Linked DNA regions of Homo sapiens: region 1 is linked to region 2. Evidence: fine-mapped expression QTL. A gene starts in region 2. The other region holds a variant in brackets. All regions are shown on one strand. Distances are from middle to middle.

The links. PIP is the estimated chance that this variant, and not a neighbour inherited with it, causes the effect.
Region 1: its variant is the best candidate, but not a certain one, in a credible set for the expression of S100A13 in adrenal gland (GTEx, PIP 0.59).

What each region holds. Positions count from the first base shown.
Region 1 is chr1:153,590,920-153,595,308 of GRCh38, reverse strand. No RefSeq gene overlaps it. Among named protein-coding and RNA genes, the nearest start is that of S100A16, 20 kb to the left of the region's middle. The variant T/C (reference allele first, on the strand shown) is at 2,149.
Region 2 is chr1:153,624,881-153,629,269 of GRCh38, reverse strand. S100A13 (S100 calcium binding protein A13) reads left to right here and starts at 1,765. Exons shown (of 3, transcript NM_001024211.2): 1 at 1,765-1,787; 2 at 2,737-2,950. The coding sequence starts at 2,798. It overlaps S100A1 (S100 calcium binding protein A1), which reads right to left and starts at 836. Exons shown (of 3, transcript NM_006271.2): 1 at 774-836. RefSeq lists enhancers at 1-691, 1,518-2,343.

The DNA of each region.
Region 1 (4,389 bases), 34 kb after region 2:
CGGCTAATTTTTATTTTTTACTATTTTTTTGTAGAGACAGGGTTTTGCCATGTTTCCCAGGCTGGTCTTGAACTCCTGGGCTCAAGTGATCTGCCCATCTCGGTCTCCCAAAGTGCTGGGACTACAGGCATGGGCCACCACTCCCAGCCTCAGGCACTGTTCTGTCTCTGCCGTCACAGAACTCAGTCCACTCGGGTGGAGATATACAATCAGTAAGCAGACAAGAAAATCATATGGCATATGGAGAAAAACAAAGCAAGAAAGAGGACAGTGAGTCCTGAGGAATGGGGCTGGTGGAGAGATGTAACAATGGGATGGATTTGGGAGAAATGTAAGGGGTAAAAAAGTCAGGCCTTGCTTATGAACTGAATCTGATGGACCAGAGAGAGGAAGGTGTCCAGGCAACTTCCATATATCTGGCTTGTGCAGCCAGAATGGTAGTGCCATTCATTGATACAGGCAATGCTGGGAAAGGCCCAGAACCCTTTTTCAGAGTGAGTGGGGAAGGAGGACATGTGGACACTGCAAGTTTAGTTTCAGACATCCCTTTGGGATAGTGATGTGGTGATGACAAAATGGTAGTTGGGGGGTGCACGGCAGGTGCGGTGGCTCATGCCTGTAATCCCAGCAATTTGAGAGGCTGAGGCAGGTGGATCACTTGAGGCCAGGAGTTTGAAACCAGCCTTGGCAACATGGTGAAACCACATCTCTACTAAGCATGCACCAGTAATCCCAGCTACTCGGGAGGTTGGGGTGGGAAAATTGCTTGAACCCAGGAGGCAGAGGTTGCAGTGAGCTGAGATCACGCCACTGCACTCCAGCCTGGATGACAGAGTGAGACTCCATCTCAAAAAAAAAAAAAAAGGATAGTTGGATATCCACATCTAGAGTTCATGGGGGAGGGCTGGATTGGCAATTTGGGAGTCAGAAACATTTAGATGGTAACCTAAGTACTGGGCACGGATGAGCTTGCCCATGGCAAGCATGGAGTGAGAAGAGGGTCTGTCCAAAAGGCACGTCCAAATGCAGACTCCATATGCCCCTTTTGTCCTCAACCTGCTCTTCGTGCTCTGGTTCGCTGGCAGCTCTGTTGTCAGCATGGAGCCATTCATTCTTCCTTTCTATATTTCGCATCCCACATCTTGTCTGTTTTGAAATCCTGCTAGTTCCATCTTCAAAACATATCCAGAATTAATCCCTCTTTCCACTTCTACTGCTACCATATTGATCAGAATCATGGTTGTCTCTTACTTAGACATTCCAAGCATCTCCCCTTGTTCCTTTATAGGAACATACTCACCTTATATACTCATATAGCAGCCAGAATCATTCTTTAAAAATGTGCTTCAGGCTGGGTGCAGTGGCTTACGACTGTAATCCCAGCACTTTGGGAGGCCGAGGTGGATGGATCACTTGAGGTCAGGAGTTCAAGACCAGCTTCGCCAACATGGTGAAATCCCGTCTCTACTAAAACAAAAATTAGCTGGGTGTGGTGGGCATGCCTGTAATTCCAGCTACTCTGGAGGCTGAGGCAGGAGAATTGCTTGAACCTGGGAGGCGGAGGTTGCAGTGAGCCGAGATCATGCCACTGCACTCCAGCCTGGGTGACAGAGCAAGACTCCATCCTGGAAAAAAAAAAGTTATGAAAGTAGATCATAATAAATGTTATTTATCAAAAAAGTACAATTTAAATTATTTTACTTGTAGTTAGCCAAAGGGAAAATGAACAAAATATTGAACTTCAGGTAATTTTTTTTTTCTCTTGAGATGGAGTCTGTCGCTCAGGCTGGAGTGCAGTGGCCCGATCTCGGCTCACTGCAACCTCTGCCTCCCGGGTTCAAGCAATCCTCTTGCCTCAGCCTCCTGAGTAGCTGGGATTACACGTGTCTGCTAATACATGCCCAGCTAATACATGCCCAGCTAATTTTTTTTAAAATACTTTTAGTAGAGACAGGATTTCACCATGTTGGCCAGGCTGGTCTCAAACTCCTGAGCTCAGGTGATCTGCTCACCTCGGCCTCCCAAAGTGCTGGGATTACAAGCATGAGCCACTTTGCCCGGCCCTTACTACACGTTTTCATTTTAGACGGTGACTTACGAATTCTTCCAGGGGGATGAGGAAAATAATACATTTACACTTCCATTTCC[T/C]GTACCCCAGAGTAGCACTATCTGATAGTTATATTATGTATACAGTATTTACATTCTGTCTTGTAACCGTGATTTCCATGTAAGTTTAGCTTCAGTTCTCTGAATGCGATGCTCACAGACAGAGCGTTTAGCTTGGTTTCTTAATTCCTGCATCCTTAATGTGATTTATTATTTGGTTGGTTGAATTTCAAAGGGCCCTTGTTTTATGTATTCCCTGAGTTGTTTCTTTCAACTCGAGTCTGTTGCAGCTTGGCAGGGAATACAATTCTTGGGTCACCCTTTCTCTCTGAGCCCTGTAACCTTCTCTCTACTGTTTGCTGACATTGTGTGTTTCATGGGAAAATCTCAGGGGAACTGGACTCTCCTCCCTGATACACAGCTTGCTTTCTGTTCATGGATGCTCTTCCTTTTTAAAGATTCTTTTTCTTTTCCTATTGTTCTAATGATGAAGTATTTCAAAGGTACAGAAAAGTACAGAAAATAACACAATATCTAATCATAAGCTTTGTTGAAGTTGGACATTTTTCTATATTTGAGTTAGATTGCTTTAAATAAATAACTAAAACTTACAGATCCAGTTAAAGGCCTCTGTGTACACTTCCGTATTGTACTTGCACTTTCCACAGCTGTAGTCACTATCCTGAACTGTGTATTTATGATCCCCTTGATTGAAAAATTTTTTGATCACATGTGTACAAATTTCTAAACAATATATTATTATTATTATTATTATTGAGATGGAGTCTTGTTGTGTTGCCCAGGCTGGAGTGCAGTGGCACAATCTCGGCTCACTGCAACCTCTGCCTCCCAGGTTGAAGTGATTCTCCTGCCTTAGCCTCCCAAGTAGCTGGGATTACAGGCGCCCGCCACCACGCCCAGCTAATTTTTAAACAATATTTTATTTAGTATTGCATGTTTTTGCACTTTACATAAATGGTATCATAGCATATAAATTCTTCTGCAACTTCCTCTCTTGTTTAAAATAAGATTTTACTTATTTATTTATTTATTTGAGATGGAGTTTCACTCTCGTTGCCTAGGCTGGAGCGCAATGGCTCAATCTGGGCTCACTGCAACCTCTGCCTCCTAGGTTCAAGCGATTCTCCTGCCTAAGCCTCCTGAGTAGCTGGGATTACAGGCCTGCACCACCACGCCCAGCTAATTTTGTATTTTTAGTAGAGACGGGGTTTCTCCATGTTGGTTAGGCTGGTCTTGAACTCCTGACCTCAGGTGATCCACCCACCTTGGCCTCCCAAAGTGCTGGGATTACAGGTGTCAGCCACCGTGCCCAGATAAAATAAGAGATTTATTTTAAGATTTATATTGATGGAGTTCATTCATTTTTACTACTCTATCATATTTCATTGTATGAAAATACCCTATTTATCTATAGTCCTATTGATGGACATTGGGCTGTTTTCAGTTTTTTGGGTGATTTATTTTAAAACTATTTTATTATCTATTTTTGTTTGTTTGAGACGGACTCTTGCCCTGTTGCCCAGGCTGGAGTGCAATGGCTCGATCTTGGCTCACTGCTACCTCTGCCTCCCAGGTTCAAGCGATTCTCTTGCCTCAGCCTCCTGAGTAGCTGGGATTACTGGCGCTCACCACCATGCCCAGCTAATTTTTTGTATATTTAGTAGAGACAGGGTTTCACCATGTTGGCCAGGCTGGTCTTGAACTTCTGACCTCAGGTGATCTGCCAGCCTCGGCCTATCAAAGTGCTGAGATTACAGGCGTGAGCCACCGCACTTGGCCGTTATTATCTATTAATTTAAAAATTTTGTTGCATTGCAGTCAGAAAAACATAATCTGTATAATATTGCAAACTTTTTTTTTTTTTTTTGAGATGGAGTCTCGCTCTGTCGCCTAGGCTGGAATGCAGTGGCGTGATGGCAGCTCACTGCAAGCTCCACCTCCCAGGTTTATGCCATTCTCCTGCCTCAGCCTCCTGAGTAGGTGGGACTACAGGCGCCTGCCACCACACCCGGCTAATTTTAGTAGAGACAGGGTTTCACCGTGTTAGCCAGGATGGTCTTGATCTCCTGACCTTGTGATTTGCCCTCCTTGGGCTCCCAAAGTGGTGGGATTACAGGTGGCCCTTTTTTTTTTTTTTTTTTTTTTTTTTGAGACAGCGTTTTGCTCTGTTGCCCAGGCTGGAGTGCAATGGCACAATCATAACTCACTGCAGCCTCGAATTCCTGGGCTCAAGCGATCCTCCTGCTTCAGCTTCCCAAAGTG
Region 2 (4,389 bases):
GGGAGGGGTGCTGGTAGCTTGATTACCTGCTCCATGCCAGAGGGGCAGCTGGAGGTCACCTGGAGCCCTAAAGCAGCCTGGGATTTTACGTGGTGGCAGTTCTGAGAGGACTTGGGGGCAGGGGAGATGGGGAAACAAAGAGGTAAGAATGGGGGGAAAGAGGAGTCAAGAGGTCTGGGCCAAAAATGGGAGGAGGAGAAAGGGGAGGTCCTGTGGAGGTCGAGTTGGGAAGGGGCACAGCACCCTACATCTCTGCTTCCCCATATCATGGGAGCTTTGCCCTGCCACCCCCAGACTCCCCCGGGACCTGAGCTCTTGGCAAGGCAGGGTGGGGGTGGCAGAGACTAAGGCTGGCAGGAGAGGTGGGGGCAGAAACAGCTGTTGTATCTGCTCTCTTCTTACCCCACAGGAGGCGAGGCAGGGGAGGGCTGGGACCCTTCCCAACACCTGGGAGACAGAGGGGGCCTTGGCAGGGACTTGAGGGCTCCCTGTGGGAGGGCCAGGCGGTCAGGAAGCTCATGGTGGGTTCCCCACTGGCTTCCTCCTTTGCTGAGCTGCCAGCTCTCTCTCCGACCTTCAGTTCATTTGTCTCTCATCACCACCTTCCAAACCCTGTCTCCCCCAAATCCCAAACTGCCCTCACCCTGACTGACTCCTCCCAGATCCTCAGTGCTCCACAGTGCTATGGTCCCCAGCCTCTTGGAGCCCTTCTGAAGACCCCTCTCCCTGAAGCTGGCAGGCCAGGGACTAGCCCAGTGGGGCAGGGTACTCACGGTTGGCCTGGGCCTGAGGTGGGAGCAGGTTCTGGACAGATGGCCAAGGTTGCAAATGTGGCTGCTGGAGCTGTGTGTGGAGACCTGTCTTCAACAGTCCCTCCCCCGCTGACCCCCCCACCGACTCCACCCCTTCACAGACGAACACCCTGTGGGGCAAGGGGCCAGGAGCAGACAGAGGCGCCCTCTGTCTCCTGGGCTGGAACAGGCGGCCCTTGTCTCTTTCCCAGCCTTGCTTGCCCCGTTCCTTTCTCTCCAGGCAGCAGTGGATGGTGCAGGGGAAAGAGGTGGGAAGGAGGTCCTGGGAGGGACACTGGATGTCTTACCCCAAGCTGGGCCTTGCAGTACCTGTGGCTGGCTGTGCTGGTTGAGCCCGGTAAGGGGGGAATTCTGCTGAGGGGGTCTTAGTCTGTGGCTCCTCCATGGGGCCTCACTGAGAGGACCCTCAGTGAGAAACTTAGTCTTGGGAGTCTGAGAACCCACAGAGGGATTTCAATCCAGGACTCTTCTCTGGGGGTCTCAACCTGGATCCCCCTCTGTGTGTGGGGCCTCAGCCTGGGGTTCTCTGAGGGATCTTGGTCTGTAGCATCCTTTGTGGGATCTCATTCCAAGGGGCCTCTGTGTGTGTCTCAGATTGGGCCTCTCAGTGTTGAGCTCCCTTGATTGGTTGCCTCCCTCTTCCCCCCTCAGCATACACACTCCTGATTAGACATGGGTATGGTGGCAGCAGCCCCCAGTATTGAGAGGACTAGGACCCTGGGACCCCTGCCGAACGAGATCTGTCCAGGCAGCTCCTCTCCCTGACCAAGTGGGGGCGCTCGTGTGGCTGGCAGGGAGCCCGGGTCCAGACCTGAGGGCTCAGGGCAAGCGGCCTGATTGGGCTGTCTCTGGTCTTCAGAATCGACCACGGAAATTTGACACCTCCGGGCTTGGAAGCAGCTCTCTCCTCCTTCCCCGCTGCTTATAAACCTCAGCCCTGAGGCTCCAGCTCACTCTACCCCATCTCCTTGCCGGGTGAGTCTCATGGCTGACCCTGGAGGGAGGCTGGAGATCATTTTTTCTTCCTGGGCTCCCAGGTCCCTCCCCCAGAGCCAGCTCAGACAGGAATTCAGGAAGGAGCTTTGGATGATCGAGCAACAGCGCGTGCAGGAGTGTGTGACGGGGTGGACAGAAAAGAGAATGCCTCTTCCAGCCCCACCCGCCGCACCCCAGGGGGTTGTGAGTGCCTGTACTAAACCCGTCCTGGAGCAGGGAGTCAGAGACGCCCCGTTCCAGGACCCTTGTCACCGGGAGACAGGAGCGGGGAGGATCTGTGGGGTCCTGGGTTCAGCACTCTGCCCTGCTGCCGCTGAGGAGAGGTAAGGGTGGAGCGGGGCAGAGAAAATGGGTCTGTTCAGACGGAGCCAGCTCTGACCACAGGGGACATTTGCCAGACCCTGTGCTTCTCTGCTGGGAGGAGCGGTTAGAGTGTGTGTGGGCGGATGCGAGTGGCCGGAGACCAGGGCCCAACATAAACAAGCTTTGGAGACAAACAACCTTATGACCTGTGAGTCTGGGTGAGACAAGAAGGGATTCTTGAGACAGACACGCCACAGAGGGGCCACCAGACTTGAAGGACTCCAAGAAGGACCTTCAACTGAAGACCTCCTCTCAAGTAGAGGGGTCTCCAGATCGAGGGATCACCACAGAGGGGTCCCTAAGCCACAGACATTTAAAAAGGATCCCGGATTGTGAGACCTACAGAAGAGGGGGTTTCTGGAGCTGAATCTCCTGCCCCCACCAAAACTGAGATGCCGTTGCCTGGTCTGCTGCCCCAAGCTCAACCCCTGTCCTCTCCCTCTTTCCCCATATGCCCCCTCCAGGCTGAGACTGATGTGATAACACCAAGGCAGGGACCTTCTGAACCATTCCTGCATCTTGGGGCTCCCTGACTCTCCCTCTCTGCTCCTTCTCTCTTCCACAGGTCAGCCCTGACAAAGGTCAGCTAGCCCCTTGAGGACATCAGCTTTGGCCTCAGGGTCCTAATGGCAGCAGAACCACTGACAGAGCTAGAGGAGTCCATTGAGACCGTGGTCACCACCTTCTTCACCTTTGCAAGGCAGGAGGGCCGGAAGGATAGCCTCAGCGTCAACGAGTTCAAAGAGCTGGTTACCCAGCAGTTGCCCCATCTGCTCAAGGTAGGCAGAAGTCTGGGACTGAGATTTTGTGAGATGATGATTATGGGACACTGTGTTTAGGACGTGATGGTGCCGAGTACGGTGAGGTGACCACAAGAAAGGGTGTGGGTGGCTGCATGTGTCAATGGTTGCAGGTTTTCTTTTGTTTTTTCGAGACAAAGTCTCACTCTGTTGCCCAGGCCGGAGTGCAGTGGTGTGATCTTGGCTCACTGCAACCTCCATCTCCGGGGTTCAAGTGATTCTCCTGCCTCAGCCTCCTGAGTAGCTGGGATTACAGGTGTGTGCCACCACGCCGAGCCTATTTCTGTATTTTTAGTAGAGACAGGGTTTCACCAGGTTGGCCAGGCTGGTCTCGAACTCCTGACCTCAGGTGATCCACCCGCCTCGGCCTCCCAAAGTGCTGTGGTTACAGGCGCAAGCCACTGCGCCTGACCCGGTTGTGAGTTTTCTTGCCTGGTGTGTACATGTGTGTGTTTGTGTGTCCATGCATATAATTAGGTAAGCAAAGATACTATGTGCCAGTGGGAGTATGGTCTTGTGTCAGAAGATGCTGTTGGGTTCTTGTGTATGCTCTGTGCCTTTCTGGTCTAATTTCCCCAAGACAGGACTGGACCCAGAGCTGGCTTCCAGGAGATTCACAGACTGTCAGAGCTGGAAGGAGGCCAAGAGAAAACACAGTCCGCATTCCTCACTTCACATATATGGAAACTGAGGCCTAGCAGTGGAAAGGGGCTTATCAAAAATGAAAACACAGCCAAATTCATGGAGTCATAGACCTCAGTGTAGGGGGTCTGTGGGTGCATCTGTGAAGACTCCCTACCCGCTATGGGCATCCCCTTACTAGGGTGTAAGAGTCATTCCTTCTCTCGCACTCACAGGCTGGAGTCAGGTCTTAAATTTCATCGACTCTGGCCTCGAAGAGGCCTGGTCATTCTGGCTGTTGACAGTTTGTTTTACATCCTTTCTGAAAATCCACAGGCACGTTGAAGTGTGTGAATATGGACTCCTTGAACACAGTGAGTCTCTGAAACTCATGGTCTTTCATCTGCAAAATCCCCTACAACTTCCAACTTCTCAGACTTTTTTTTGAGACAGGGTTTCTCACTCTGTTGCCCAGGCCACTGTGCGATCACAGCTCATTGCATCCTTGACCTTCCGGGCTCAGGCAATCCTCCTGCCCCAGCCTCACAAGTAGCTGGGACCACAGGCGCATGCCACACTGCCTGGCTAATTTTTTCTTTTTTTGTGACAGAGTCTCACTCTGTCACCGAGGCTGGAGTGCAATGGTGCGATCTTGGCTCACTGCAACCTCTGCCTCCTGGGTTCAAGTGGTTCTCTTACCTCAGCCTCATGAGTAGCTGGGATTACAGGCAACCGCCACCATGCCTGGATAATTTTTGTATTTTTAGTAGAGACGGGGTTTCACTATGTTGGCCAGG